Linked DNA regions of Homo sapiens: region 2 is linked to region 1. The links come from fine-mapping of genetic effects on gene expression. Tissue or cell type: cerebellum. Region 1 holds a variant in brackets; the other region holds the start of a gene. All regions are shown on one strand. Distances are between the middles of the regions.

Region 1 (8,108 bases):
ATGTAGCCCTGTCCCTGTGGGACTAGTCTACTCCCTGGGCTCATGCCAGGTATGTGCTGCACACATTTCTTTCCACTGGAAGGCCTTCCTTACTCCCTCTCTATTCATACACATGCTAGCTGGACATCAAGGTTGAGCACAGATCCCACCTTTTCCACAAAGACCCCTCTGAAGACTCCACCCAGAAGTATTGATGCTAGTCTGAGCACTCCTTATAATGTTTGATCACAAGAGTTTATTGATTATTGCTGCTTTGTCACTTACCTAATAGTTCTTAAATTCCCATGTTGTCCTCATAACTAGATTGTGATTTGTTTTGAGATTCTTATGACCGTACAGGTCATAAGATGTAAACATTACTTGCAGCATGTGTCTGTACCTATGTATTTGTTTAGGGGAGAAATAATCTTGACTTTAAGTTTTTAAACATCTTGTTCCTATTTTAAAAAATGACATGTGAATCTGAAAAGCTTAATTTAGTAGTAAGGAAGTAAAATGCTTGGTCTTTGGTAGCTTTTATCGTTTATCCCACTGTTTGGCATTCAGTGTTCTGTAGCTTTTAATTCAACAAACCCACATGAAGTCCCTCCTCTTTGTGCTTTTTCTGAATAGATGGATTACATGTAAATCTTTACAGCCAGAGACTTGTGAAAGAATCATGGATACAATTTCTGATCGCCTCCGAATTCCTTGGCTTAGGGGAGCCAAAAAAGTGAACATCAGCATCATCCCTCCGCTTGTCCTGCTGCCTGTCTTCCTTCATGTGGCTTCCTGGCATTTCCTCCTGGGGGTGGTGGTTTTGACCTCCCTTCCTGTGCTGGCACTGTGGTACTACTACCTCACTCACAGAAGGAAAGAACAGACCCTGTTTTTCCTGAGCCTTGGACTGTTCTCTCTGGGCTACATGTACTATGTGTTCCTGCAGGAAGTGGTCCCCAAAGGGCGTGTGGGTCCCGTTCAGCTGGCGGTTCTTACCTGCGGGTTATTTCTGATACTCTTAGCCTTGCACAGAGCCAAGAAGAATCCAGGCTACCTCAGCAATCCAGCAAGCGGTGACAGATCTCTAAGCAGCAGCCAGCTGGAGTGCCTGAGCAGAAAAGGGCAGGAGAAGACCAAAGGGTTCCCTGGGGCAGACATGTCGGGCAGTCTCAACAATCGCACAACAAAGGATGACCCCAAGGGCTCTTCCAAGATGCCAGCTGGAAGCCCCACCAAAGCGAAGGAGGACTGGTGTGCCAAGTGCCAGCTGGTGCGACCAGCCCGGGCATGGCACTGCCGGATATGTGGCATCTGTGTGAGGAGAATGGATCATCATTGTGTCTGGTATGTTGGAAACATTTGGAGACTTGGAAAGTGTAAATTCATGTAAAACTCTAGTTACATTTTATCTTCCCTTGTGCTATCCCAAAATTTCTCTCCTTCCCAGCTTTACACCTTGTAGATATTTGTGGGTTGTTGTGATGTTCCCACTTAGTCATCAGTTTTTCGAGTTTCACAAATTTAGTTCCTTCAGTCATTTCCTGAAGGAGAATAACAGAAAACTTGTGGGGTTTTTTTTTTCTCAATTTTCTTTTGAATGACTCCTCATTTATCTTTTCCTTTCTAATAGAGAAATATCTACAGTTGAATGATTTTTTAAAAAAAGAATTGATCAGAAACAGTATAAGCATATTTCCCTGTGCTATTCCTTTTTAAACATAAAGCTCAAGAAAGTGTACCCCTATTTTTAGGTGACTCTTTTGTCCCCTTGCCATACATACTTAATCGTTTTTGATGCTACCGATGATTTCCACTTAACATTATTGAATCGAGGTCCCACCAGATAAACTCTCTATTTGATTATTTGCAGAGAAATGGGCTTTTGTACCTGCCAGTTGGCCAGTAACAAACGAAGGTACATAAGGCTCCGTAAAATATGAAGTGCAATGTTTAAAGATAATGTTGCAGCTTCACTAAATACATCTAAACTAAAGGGACTATAATTAATTCAGATATGAATGCTGTAAGTAGCATGTTTGCAGTTTATTGCTCTTCAGGCAGTCGTGATCAATGAATTAATGCTTTTCGTGTCTAGGATTCTGGTCCTGTAGCGTACCTCCTCCTCAGAAGGGGATGCAGGAGAGGGTGAGGGTGCAGAAAAGGCTGAGAGGCATTGGCGTGGGCCTCAAGTGCATGGCTCAAGTGCAGGGCAGCTCTTTTCTGGGTCCTTGTCTTTAGAAGTAAACAGGTGTTTTCATTTTTAGATGTTCTACTTCTGTGTCTTCACTTATTCGTGTGTGTGTGTGTGTGTGTGTGTGTGTGTGTGCGTGTGTGTTCCATTTACAAATGCTGGTTTGCAGAAGGCTCACCTAACAGCAGATATGTGCCCACTGGAGCATCCTGGCATGCAGTGGGTAGAAGGCACTCCCTCTACATTCTGCCCCACAAATGGCCATGACACAGAACTGTTTTTACCTGCCAAAGAGCCTGCATGTTATCAAGTTGTTCTTCCCCCTACGCTATGTTTCTAACCTCTTTGGATCTTTATATTACTCTTCATATATTTAACATGAATTTTCCCATACTATGTAATACTTCTGATTTAGCATTTTTAAGTTTTCATAATTCTATTTATCTCCCTTTCCTTAACATGGTGAGGACAATGTTAGATCTCCATAGCTGGGTAATATTGATATTTAGGAAGATTTGTTAGCCAGGTTCTGCTTTTTATACTTAGTCTTGTCCTTAAACTGACGATATGATTCCACTTTGCGAAGAGTAGAGAATATAAGACTGCATTCCTCAGGGTGCAAGTTTTTAATTCCCTAAAATTGAAAAATAAGAGAACTTCTTAATAACTGGAATTTACATTTTCCCTATTTAAAACCTTGTCTTGGCTGGGCGCAGTGGCTCATGCCTGTAATCCCAACACTTTGGGAGGCTGAGGTGGGTGGATCATGAGGTCAGGAGTTCAAGACCAGCCTGGCCAACATGGTGAAACCCCATCTCTACTCAAAATACACAAATTAGCTGGGCATGGTGGCATGTGCCTGTAATCCCAGCTACTTGAGAGGCTGAGGCAGGAGAATTGCTTAACCGGGACCCGGGAGGCAGAGGTTGCAGTGAGCCAAGATCGCGCCATTGCACTTTAGCCTGAACTACAGAGCAAGACTCCGTCTCAAAAAAAATAAAGCTTTCATGTTTATTATGTAAGTTATATCAAGAACTCTTAAAAATGTGTTTGCTTTTTTATTTCTCTATGCTGTTTTGAGGATAAATAGCTGCGTTGGAGAATCAAATCATCAAGCATTTATACTTGCCCTTTTGATCTTCTTGCTCACCTCGGTGTATGGGATCACACTGACCTTGGACACCATTTGTAGAGACAGAAGTGTCTTCACAGCTCTTTTCTATTGTCCTGGAGTTTATGCAAATTACAGGTGAGCAGTGGGTACCACAGTATGGAGGCCCCCTGGGAAGTAATGGGTGTTGCCATTGACAGGGACTATTACTACTTGGTTAGGAGTTCTCAATCAAAACATAGGCCAGGCTATGGAAATGCTGGGTATCCCTGGAATTGCCAGCAAAATTGTGCATTGGTGATGTGTGTTTTTCAAGGGTGCTGTTAAAAGGATTGTTGACCTTTAAAAAGTGAAGAACTAGTTCTCTACAAACAGGACCAGGCCTAATCAGGGACTTCCAGAGTCAAATGACCACTCATAGGCTCAAAAGTCGCAACAGTGAAACAGAAACAATAAACAAAAACTAGCAGCCCCAGGGCACATATGTGCCTATTTTGTCATAACGATCAGAAACCTTCTCACTTTACTGCTGCTTTCTGATGTTTTTTAGTCCAATCTTAATTTACTGCTTCCGACCCTTTTGAGATGTGCTCGACATCTCTATAACCTTGCTTTTCTTTCTAACCTCTCTTGGTTTTTCCTGTTCTACTTTCTTTCTTTTTTTAATCACCACTGATGATTACTGTGATATGTAGGTCAAAATTTCCTTAGGCCCCTTTATAGATTGTGAAGATTTCCAGGCCATGGCAAAATTTGGGATTCTTCCGCTTC[G/A]GCCTCAGCGCCCCCTCCCTGAATGCTGGGGCCCCCCTCTGCCCATGCTCTTTATTCCCTTCCCTTCATCATCCTCTCTGACATAAGTGCTCTGGGGTATCTGTGGTTTGGCCCTTTTCTTTATTCTCACTCTTCATTTTCAGAACAATCCTTGCTTTCTTTACAAAGTATCCCTTTGTGGCATTTGTTTTTATTAGCCTGTGGACAGATCTCCCCATTGTCATCCTAGAACCAGACACCTGTGGGCATTATTAGAATAGATTGGTCTTCCTCAGATTAAGTTTCCTTCCTCACTGTGTGGAGAGTATCTCCAGCATGTGAATGAAATTCTCTGCTAACGCTGCAGGTGAGGCCCGTCCTGAAGCACAGCATGTCTGTGCACTCTCGGTGCGGAGGCGAGGGAACCGAGGAATACAGTCCTGCCATTGCTTCTCACCCTGCTCTGTGCAGGCGATTCACAGCACCTCATCTTTTTGGTTAGGTCCTTGGATTTAATAGTCTTTGAGGTCCCTTCAGCTTTTACAAATGAAGATTCTGAATGAACTTATTTCTAACTAACTCTTAATTTGCGAATGTTGGAAAATCATCAAATGGCAGAGGCTAACTGGCAGCCTGTCTCATTAGTGAGCCTGAGAGGAGCTTCCCTACCTTGTGTGATTGTGTTGGGCTTTAGGAGGGTGAATTTGGAATGTCTCGGTGTTCCTACATCCAGGTAAGCACAGGGCTGCTGGGGTTGGGAGTCGTCCATCGTCTTTTCATTCCTCAGCATTGGACTGGAAAGAATGGAGATTAGTAACTTTAGCACTGTTCCTCGGCATCCACCTGCAGCTTCCTAGAAGACATTTATAGCAGTCCCTTGGTGCCTTTGTTTTCTCATGAGTTAGATGTAATTTACGAATTACTTGTTTATTTAACAAACAGGTGTTGAACGCTGTTATGTCAGGCAGCGTGCTGGGTGTGTGGAGGGTACAAAATGCAAAAAACAGTCCCTGCTATTCTAGTGTAATATACTAGAAAATAGGCACCAGTAATTATAGAATAAACACACACATTCTCCTACTTAAGCAGGTTATTGGCATTCTGAGTATCTTCCAGTTCGGAGGGTTGGGGAAGATGCCAAAGTCTTTAGTAATAAGTAAAAAAATGTGTAAAACGTGAGAATGATGACAGTTTTCTGAATTTGACAAAAACGGCAGCCCTGACAGCCTTTTTCCCTCTCCTAGCTCGGCTCTGTCCTTCACCTGCGTGTGGTACTCTGTGATCATCACAGCAGGCATGGCCTACATCTTCCTGATCCAGCTGATCAACATCAGCTACAATGTGACTGAGCGGGAAGTCCAGCAGGCCCTCCGACAGAAGACTGGGCGCCGGCTCCTCTGCGGGCTCATCGTGGACACAGGCCAGTACAATAGGGGCTTCCTGCGGAACTGGCACCAGTTCTCCACCCTGGGCACACGTGCATTCCACCACCCTGCCGAGGACATTGTCTGAAGTGCCTTCTATGTGGCTCTCTGAGGGATGATGGCTCCTCCTTCCGTCTCCCTTCCATTTTACACTTCAGTGTCCATTTCTATCCCCAGTTTCTTAAAGGCATTATAGGGCCATGCTCAGGTTTAGAGACTGGAGTGGGAAGAAGTTAATTTTTCTGACGCCACAACTTAAGAGACTTTTATACTGAGGCAGTAAAAGTAGAGCCATTCCTTTCCAGTCACCTTTTTAATTGACTCAGTTGCCTGAACTTGAGAAGGATGTGGATTGCTAATGCACAAATTGATAGAAGCAATTCCCATCCATTAGTATGGAGGAAAGAGTGTTGGATTAGGATAGTTTCTAGTCCCTCTTTCGATTCTTAATAGCCATGTGACCCCTAGCTGAGTCACTTTCCCAAGTCTCAGGGTCATCTGCAAAGTGGGGTACTGATGCCTGCCCTGGCTACCTCACAGAGCCGTCATGAGGGTCACGTGAGGGAAGATGGATGTGGAAAGCACTAAAAAACAACTCAAGAGCCATGGAAATACAAAGTATTAGGAAAATATTATGATGGAAGAAAAACGTTTATAGTCTAGAATATTGAAGCCAATATTATTAGGGTAATCAGTTTTCAGCATATACCTTGTTGTACAGTTATGAGAATTTCTCCTTCTTATTAGACATGAACTACTCAAACAGAGAAGATGACCAGATGGATTGATGCTAAGTTGTCTCATCTTGAAAAGACAGTTGACAACAGTTATAAAGATAATTATTGCTAGTGTAATGTAGTGTGGCCATGAGTTTAGGTGATGAGTTCTTCTATTTATATTTTATAAATTCTGCTTGGGTTTCTTATAAATAACTCCAACAGGCATTCATGTGTTTTTCCTCTTCCCATGTTTCACCAGGTAAGGTGCTAGCACACTTGTGACTGTGGCTGGAAGAGGAGAACAGACACTCCTGTGGGGATGCTTTACTCTCTTTTCTGGTAGGAAGGCTGAGTAACATCACGGGCTCGATTATTTTCTTCATGTATTTCAAATGCTGTCAGTTATAGCACTAAATTGTGAAAATCAGCCTTCTGGCATTCACATTATTCTGGTATGAACTTTGAGGAGTTGAGTGACATCTTCCCACTTAACTTGCACATTAATTCTCAATTACCCCTCCCTAAATAACAGTATCTCACTAAGAGAGAAGAAACAGGGTATATGTGGTTTCCACTATTAATGGATTACTGTTCTTCCCTGGCTCTTCCGACAATAACAAGTTGTTTCTTTAATCATATCTTAAAACCGAAAATGTATAAAAGATTAAATATTTATGTACAATGGGTTGTTCTACTATAGAATTAAGATGAGGGAATTTCAGATGAGGAAAATACCCTTTTGAAATGTTAGTTTTGAACATGTACTGTTGTGCAATCCCAAAGATAATTCATGACTCCTTAAATTTGCCTTGGCTTATAGCTTAATATAGGGAAAATATTGCCAGCGTTTTCAGTCATTCTGTGCATGCTGCTTTAAGCAAGAGATTTATATTTGTTGAGAGGAAATATTGCTACTTCCTGCACTTCCACCCTCTGCAGCCAGCACCGTCCCTACTGTTGCCATTAATTGGAGCTGTCCTTAAGATGGTCACCATATTCTTATTCAGGCTGTTGTCATTTTCCCCAGAGATGGTTTGTTTAACGAATGATAGGCTCTGTGCCTGGGGATGTTAGCAGACTCTGGGGTTTGTACAGTGATGCCTTCTCCCTGGCCCAGAGCTGAATATTCATCTAGAATTAAAGTTGGATTTGATATAACAAATTTCTTTCTATACAGGTTTTACATAAGAGAGACAGTAATAATGTCAAGGATAGCCTGTGTGGGCAGAAATTGGTAGTCGTGCTTTTGAATGTCAGCTGTAGAGCCAACTCTGATTATCTAGCCATTGATCATACAAATTGATAGAAACATTAGTCAGTAATTTTAGCTTCTTGCCAAATTGTTCACAACATCTAAATGTAATGTGATGTGATGAAGATAAGTAGTACAAAGAGACCAAAATAATTTGGGAGAATTAGGAATGATGACAATTTTTTTTAACAACTTACCTCTAATAGGGTTACTTGGATGAGCCAACTCCGCTTCCTTCCCATGGATAGGAAGGGACTCTGTGTATTATTCAGGTTTATTGGCACGAAGATACTTGTTTTAAGTTCCTTGAGAACCCATGATGGACAGTTGACAGAATGCTTAAACCTGTCAAAAGATGAGTGATCTTGTGTGGGAAAAGCCTTCCCAGGCGTCTGTACCGAAAGGAGCAGCAAACAAGGGGCTAATCCATGAGCAGTGTTCTGTAGGCTCTGTGACATCTTTGGTTTATAGGATTTTGGAGCCTTTTATGATCTGGAACTATTTGAGGGGTTTCATTATAGGCCTTGGTTCTCTCCAGGGGCCAGATGAGTTTATTGTGGAATCTTTGAAAGGACAAGGCCTCTGTGAATGAATCAGTCCCAGGGAAGCATTTGGTGGTGGCGGCAGTGGAGGATTGCCCGGTGAACCTATAAATCAGCAGTCTCTTGGGCAGAGGAGCAAG
Region 2 (8,108 bases), 420 kb before region 1:
CTCAGATAATTGTTTAAGTCCAGTGTTTCCCAGCATGGCCATTGAAAGCCCAAATAATCTTTGGTGAAATTATGCTATTTAGAGAGGTGGGCACTAGAATTAGAATTAGAATAAGTATATATATATAGGAAAAAGGAGTTTTTCCTGTAGGAGTGGAAAAATCTGACTTAAATGGTCCCATAAGAGCTGGCAAAAGTTAAAAGTAAAGCTTGTGTACTTTGTATCTTGAGCCCCCAACCTTGAGGATGAGTTGCCTCTAAATGCACACCTGACAATGTGTCTCCCCAGGCAAGTATAACACCAGAGAGAATGCTCTTTCTGGATCAAAACCAAATTCTCAGAACAAAAATCTAGATGAGAGGATAATCTTATCTAGTTTTATTGGTAACCCACAGCAAAGTTTGTCCAAATGAATGCCAGTCAAATGAAAACTACATTGGTCTGGGAGGACAGCTCAAATTAAAGGCTTATAGGGCCTATGCCTGTGTTCTACTCTATGACAACACTTCCAGATTGCACAATGCAAAACAGAAGCAGAAAAGAGAGAAAACAGAGATGAAAAGGAATAGCCTGACTCCACCAAAGATGCCAATCAAATGGGAAGTGATAACAAATCCTAGGTACCAAAGTGAGACTAAATAGCCAAAGAACTCAAAATCAAAGAGCAGAGTTCAGAACCAGTGCTGACCCAATGTGTCAATGCAGACTCAACTGTGTGCAGTGAGGCACAAGAAGCCTTGGTGGGTACTGCACCTGGCAGAGAACTGGGATCCATGGTGACATGCAGTGCAGACAGTATCTCTGTGGAAACTTCAAGAAAACTACAGAAACAAGTGAAGCTCACACAAATGAAAACAAACAGAGGCTAATTATTCAGAGCTTGCTCTAGCAAGGGAGTTGACCACCATCACTTCTGCTTAGTAGAGACTCAAAGGCAGGAAGGGGAGTGAGAAAACTTCATAGTTATAAAAGGGGAAGGTTTCAGGTATGCTCTGACTGGATCTTGCTGTTGGAAGCTGGAGGCAGGCTAAGTAGGAGCAGGGCATTTTGTGGTTTGGGAAGCATATTTAACTTTCTCTGATTGATCCTAAGTTGGAAGCAGGGGCAAAAATTGGGGAAATTGACTCATTGAGCAAGACCTAATTCTTTTGGGCCATTTGCTGCAGCAGTTGTAGTTTGATTTCTTGGACTGGTTGCTGCTAAAGTGTTTTTGTTTCCTGAGCTGATTGCTGCAGAAACTGTGGGTCAGAGTTAGTTGTATTGCTATTTATGGTCTGGCCATTGCCCACTTGCATATTTAGTCTCTCACAGTAGAATCCTGACATTGTAGATATTAAAAAAAAAAAACTGCCTTTAAAATCAAAACAATTGAACTCATGGAGAAAGAGAGTAGAAGGATGGTTACCAGAGGCTGGGAAGGGTAGTGGGAGAGCTGGGGGAGGAAGGTGGGGATGGATAATGGATACCAAAAAATGGAATGAATAAGGTGTAGTATTTGATTGCACAACAGGCTATAGTCAATAATAATTTAATTGTAAATTTAAAAATCACTAAAAGAGTATAATTGGGTTGTTTGTAACATTATGGATAAATGCTTGAGGTGATGGATATCTCGTTTTCCATGATGTGATTATTATGCATTGCATGCCTGTATCAAAATATCTCATATACTCCATACATATATACACCTACTAAGTACCCACAAAAATTTAAAATAAAATTCCTTTTAAAAATAAAGAAAAAAACCACCTACCTAATGGACCACATTTTATTTTTTAGCTATTGAACTAGCAGTCACACCATAACAGTATTTGTTCATTCAACACTTTAAACTTTTTAATGTACTTTCAAATACATCATTCTCCCTTTTATCCTTACAACAACCTTGTGATCCTGAGAGGTTAATTACTTGAGGTCACTGAATGACTTTTGGCTAGAATAAGGATTAGATAATATTACAGAGTGACTTGTAATATATAACTCAAATTGTTAGGTATAGATAATCCATACAAATGGCTTTAAAATAAATATTTTGGGTTTCATGCTATGATGAAGGATCTGTTCCATTTGCTTCCAATTTAGTTGCGTAAAGTTGAGATAAAATCTTGAAGGAAGGGTCATAGCACCATTTAAATACCCACAGGTCTGTCATGTGGAAGAAGTATTAGGTTTATTCCTATGACTCCAGAGGGCAGAACTAGTACAAGTGAGTAGAAGACAGGCAGATTTCAACTAAGAATATGAAATGTCTTTCTAATAATGAGACACTTGCCCCCAAAAGAAGGTGTTGACTTGTGAAAGAACCAGTTCCTCATCTCTTATAGTGTTTAAAAAGAACGCCATAATAGAACTCCATAATCCTAGAGACTCCTTTAACTGGTCACACCAGCTAACCTCCAGGACCTTCGTAGATTTCAAGTTTATGAAATGTTGTTGAACTTTGAAAAGAGGCACAGATATTTTGAATACAACAGTTTAAAGTCATTCAAATTCTGGATGAAATTATTTCGTTATGCTCCTCAAAAACAGTGAGTTCTATTTGAAGTTTTACCCCCAGACTCTCCTTTGAATTAGTATTTTTGCCCATATACCCATATATTTTCAAGAAATTTCTTTCTTTCCTTCCTTCCTTCCTTCCTTCCTTTCTTCCTTCCTTCTTCCTTCCTTCCTTTCTTCCTTTTGAGATAGGGTCCTGCTCTGTCATCCAAGCTGGGGTGCAGTGGGGTGTTCACGGCTCATTGCAGCCTCGACCTCCCGGACTCAAGCAGTCCTCCCAACTCAACTCCCAAGTAGCTAGGACGACAGGCATGCACCACCACGCCCAGCTATTTTTGTATTTTTTGTAGAGATGGGGTTTCATCATGTTGCCCAGACTTGTCATGAACACATGGCCTCAAGCTAGCCCACCTCCCACTTCAGCCTCCCAAAGTGCTGGGATTACAGGCATGAGCCACTGCACCTGGCCAAGAACATTCAAAACTTTAAAACTGAAAATTGTCCTAATAAGGAGTCTACTAACTTAATCTTCCATCAGCATTGTTTTCTGATTTCACAGAAAACTTTACAACAAATGTATTGCATTCATTCTTGATGTTTTAAGAAATTAAAGGAATTAGACAAGGTAAAAACAAAAACAAATCTATCTCTTTAAAGATGGCAAGGACTAGGATTTTAATCTGTAATCTTAAATTTTTGAAAAAGATCTTTTCCTTCTTAATGACTTCTTTTTAAATGGTCCTTCAGGTTGAACACAATTACATTCTTTTATAGTATACAGTAATGAAGCTGAAATAAAACAGTGAGTTCTCTTCCACACGTAAATTGTGATTGTTCAATGTTCTGCAAGGTCTTCTGATGGCCCCATTCTCACCCTGCTCCTTACCTGCCTCTTTAACTCTTTAAATCTAATCCCCTAATTTTTATCAGAAAAGTATTTCCTTTTTACGATAGGCTGTGGTTTCTGCCTTTAAAAAAACAATCCTGGGGTTTCTCTCAGAATCTGGAAGAAGTCATTGCAATGGTAAAGTAGGTAAGAGGCTGGGGTGGAAAGAAATGCCTTCTGCATAAATCTAGTTAGTCTGAGTCGTTTTTTGACAACTTCCGGGACCAGACTTCAGGCAGTGCTGGAAATTGTTCTCTTTACCATATCTTTTTTTTTTTAACTGTACATATTTACATACATACACATATGGTGAGGGAGAGAACGTGATGACGTGAGACTCTCCATGGAGAGTAGGAGGTAATAAAGAAATAAAACAGGTGTCTGAGGAGAGGTTCTATTAGAGAGGGGAGAATAGAGAGTAATTATCGTTCAGACAGGCAAGAGTTCTCTGCAGGTAGCAGCCTGGGAAAGCGAACTCGCGCACCCTCTTGGGGGACGGGCTCTTTTGCTTTCTATTTCTTCTCCTGCAGCCAGGGTGCACACGTATTTGAAACAGACCGAATTTCCTCCTCGATGTGGCGTCAGGTTGACTTTTCGAGACTAGCGGGTATTTCTTTTTAATGACTCCAATGCCTTTTTATTATTGCTGTTATTGAGGTTGAGGGAGAAGAGATCGGTCTAAATTCTGGCTGGGTAAGTGGGGGGATTCTCGGCGATGAGAAACGGGGGACTTAGAAGCCGGAGGAAAATCAGCAGCCCCACATCTCCACTTCTCCAGTCCGCCCTACTCTCCACCCGTGACCTCCAGTGGAGACCCCAGGCGGCAGCATCAGTATTTGATCGGCCCTTCGTCAGCACGCTGCCAGCCCTGGCCGGCTGGGTTCGCCAGGCATCACCCGCTCGGCTCTGAAGCGGACGCCTGGCCCTGCACCGGGCTTTGGAAGGACCCTCTCTGCGCTCGCCCCCTCCCCAGGGTGGCTCCGCTTTCGAGCCCGGGCGCGGTGCCCACCATGCGCGGCTGCCTGCGGCTCGCGCTGCTCTGCGCGCTGCCCTGGCTCCTGCTGGCGGCGTCGCCCGGGCACCCGGCGAAATCCCCCAGGCAGCCCCCGGCACCGCGCCGCGACCCCTTCGACGCTGCCAGGGGCGCCGATTTCGATCATGTCTACAGCGGGGTGGTGAACCTCAGCACCGAGAACATCTACTCTTTCAACTACACCAGCCAGCCCGACCAGGTAAGACACTCGCTCCCCTCGCTCGACTCCTAGAACTTGCCAGATCTCAGAGCCCCGTCGCTGCTTTGGAGTCCCCTGGGAATTGACCTTGGGAGACTTCGGGGACCAGGGGACTTTCTTTCCCTTTCTCCTCCGAAGCAATCGCTGCCCTGCCCTAGCTGCCTCAACACGCCTCGGGGACAACTCTGCTTCGCCTCGCGCCTCTCCTGGCCTGGTCAAGGGCATTGCTGGGCTTTGCAGAGGCACCAGTTCCCCGCACCGTCTGCGGGTCCTGGGTCCCTGCTGGGTCTTTCTCCAGGAAAGTCCTGATTTCTAGGGTTGCGGGGTGTGGTGTGGAGTGCGAAGAAGAACCGCACCTCGGTTCCTAATCCCCTGCAGGGAAGAAACCTAATTTCAAGTGGCTGATTCAGCCAGACCCTTCTATTTCATAGCGCATGGGGAGGGAGAACTGCTCAGAATCTAAAATGGAAATTGTGTGAAAATGGACGGAAGCTGCAGAACCTCTGTGCATTCAACAGTCACTTCCTGCGTTTTTGTGCCATTGTCACACGTTGTGCTTCAGAGACGCCAGAAGACCTGGGCAAAGACGTGAGAACTGCAGCCATCAGCTGATCAATCCAGGTTTTGATTTTAAATAAGGATGGATAATTGTGTGAAAGTTCTAGACCTATTTTTGACAAAAGTTGAGGGAAGATAAGGAGGGAAAAATGTTCCAGTGACTATCCCTTTGACATATATACTCCGATTATATAACGTAAGAAGATGCATATAGTTCATTTCTTTCCTCTAGTGTGGTACCTCTGGAGCACTGGGCGGGGAGAGAGAGGGAGACAGAGAGAGAAAGAGAGAAAGAGAGACAGAGACAGAGACAGAGACTCCCCAGTGTACCAACCTCTGGATCTTCTTCCCATATAAATGTGTTTATGTATCCCTTACTATACCAGCATCCCCTACCCTCTAGGGAAATTCCAGAACTAGATGATTGGGATACCATGATATGCCTCCGTCTGATTCTCACTCCAGATCGGAACTAGAAAACCTCATCACTTCCCAAAGTGAGGGTGGTTTGTATTGAGCAGGGGGGACCAATGTGCCTAACACTGCTCCTAGACATCTTCCAGCTGTGTGTAGCCAGAAAGTGCCCTGAGTGCCCCATCTCCAGTGTGGCACCAAATCCTATGGCACTGTTACCATGGCAGCACAGCCCTCACCCTGCTCTGTCCTCCAGTAACCTTCAGGTTATATGTTCTGTAGTGAGCAGAGTGGCTGTATGCAGAGCCATTTCATGGTAGACAAGGGAGAGGCTGCAGTTTTTGTTTCCCAAACGCCATATACCCAGCCTCTTTCTATCTAGCGTGGGAGAACTCATCGACTGGTTGACATGTTGCACGTGAGGTGTGTTCCTAGTCCTGTGATTGGCTGGGAGCAGAAAAAAGTCTGAAAACTCCATGATCTCTGGAGTAAGTCTCAGCTTCCCCCTAAATCATTGGTAAGAAAACTCAAATTACATGTGCTAAGTAAATCCTGACATCAGGCTTTGGTATTTCTTGCAGTTCTGCATAGAGATAGAGCATCTACTTATGAATTGTTGCCTTTACATTTTCCCCTTGTACTGTGTGAGTTTTGCACTTGAGATCACCTGGTTGACTTCCCTAGTAAACCTTGAGATATTGAGGGCAGGGGCAAAGTCATGTTCATCTCTGCCCTCCAGTACCTAGCACAGTGAATGGCACATAAGAGGTTTATAAGCCAGGCATGATGGCTCACACCTGTAATCCCAGCACTCTGGAGGACAAAGTGGGAGGATTGCTTGAGACCAGGAGTTCAAGACCAGCCTGGAAAACATAATGAGACCCTCTCTCTACAAAAAATTAAAAAATTAGCTGGGTGTGATGGCACATGCGCCTGTAGTCCCAGCTACTTAGGAGGCGGAGGCAGGAGGATCACTTGAGCCCAGGAATTTGAGGCTGCAGTGAGCTGAGCTCTTGCCACTGTACTCCCACTGGGGACAGAGTGATACCCTGTTTTTTCAAAATGTTTTTTTTTTTAAAGAAAAGAGAGGCTTATAAAAAACATTTAGTGTTTTCCAAAAATGAACAAATAAGTGAATAAAGGGTTATTAGCTAAGGCTAAATAAAATGAAATGTATACTGTTTTCAATTCAATAGTTTGGAAAATGTGAGATCATTTCAGATAAAAACATAAAAACAAATTTCTTTCATAAAACAAATTTGGTTTTTATAAAAACACATTTTAAAAATTGTTCTATTATGCCCTATTTTGTCTGTGTGTGTTAACATGTCCTTTATTTTATGAAACAGTTTTGAAAATATTTTTGAATGACACAGTAAAAGGTTGATGACCCAAGCAGTCCCTAGAATTTTTGTTAAAATATTACTAGTCTGAGAAATACAAAGTTGGGAACCATGGGAACAGGAGATAACAAGAATTTCAATTATTTTAGTGCCAGTATTCTCAATATAAGCCAAATGTCCTCAAATCTTACAGCCTTCTGGGACCAATCTTTAATATGCAAATGCTGTAGTGGAGCCCTCAAAAGCCACTTATTGTGGGAAATTAACCTCCTGTCCTACCAGCCAGTATTCCTGTTGCTTTCTCCAGAGAAGACATTTTCTTGATCTGTCTGTCCAAACCATTACCTTCGGTTCCTACTCTCTTCTTAGTTCTTCTTATCCTGCATAAGATATCAGCAGCCCCTTCTTGCAGGTACACAAGGCTGTTGGATGTAGCAGAATTTTACTGAAGGTTTGGAATAACATAGAGGAATGACATCACAGCACAAGATAGGTGATAGATTAAATCAGAAACCTAGGCCATACTGTTCCGACAATTTACCACCAGGGGGATTTCAAGATAGCGACGCTCTCTTTCAGGCGCTGGTTTGTCACTATCTTCTTGGCCATCCCCTCATACCTCCTCAAATGCTGACCCCCACCCACTAAATTTTTGTTACTCTCCCATGTTGTGCAATTTTTGCCATCATTGCTTATCCTACACTCACTAAGAGGCTCTGTTAAATAGAGATGTATGACCCCAGACCTACGATCTTTAGAGCAGAAGCTTGGACATGACTGGTTTCCCTTTAACCTGAACAAAGTCTTGATAAGGTAAGTCTTTCTAGCCTGCAGGGTCATTGCCCACCTCCCCTCTTCAGTGCAACAAAGAATTTGGTTTAGGGAAAAAAATGGCTAGTTTTTGAGCTTTAATCTTTGTTTTCCTCTTTCTTCAAGCCATTGTTGCTTGACATTATTTTTCCTGTGCCTTGGAGGAGAAAGTCTATTCTAAGTTTAGGCTTAAAGACAGGAAGCTGTTGTGGGAGCCATTGCTCCTAATCTTTCCTGTCAGCCACTGCATCTCCCATACCAAACTGTCCCAGAGAACTATTTTGCCAAGCTTGTGTCATACTAGTTAGCTGCACTCAGCACCAGGAAAAGTCTCATATGCCTTCCAGGCATAGGGTAATGTAAATATGA

What was found. PIP is the estimated chance that this variant, and not a neighbour inherited with it, causes the effect.
Region 2: SIDT1 starts here. The variant in region 1 is fine-mapped to the expression of SIDT1 in cerebellum (GTEx, PIP 0.98).

The regions. Positions count from the first base shown.
Region 1 is chr3:113,953,088-113,961,195 of GRCh38, forward strand. ZDHHC23 (zDHHC palmitoyltransferase 23) reads left to right here. Exons shown (of 5, transcript NM_001320466.2): 3 at 613-1,323; 4 at 3,252-3,419; 5 at 5,276-8,108. The coding sequence ends at 5,543. Among named protein-coding and RNA genes, the nearest start is that of ZDHHC23, 9.1 kb to the left of the region's middle. The variant G/A (reference allele first, on the strand shown) is at 4,053.
Region 2 is chr3:113,528,630-113,536,737 of GRCh38, forward strand. It overlaps SIDT1 (SID1 transmembrane family member 1), which reads left to right and starts at 3,926. Exons shown (of 25, transcript NM_017699.3): 1 at 3,926-4,614. The coding sequence starts at 4,393. RefSeq lists enhancers at 3,318-3,537, 3,558-3,747, 3,888-4,217, 4,688-4,817 and a silencer at 4,488-4,537.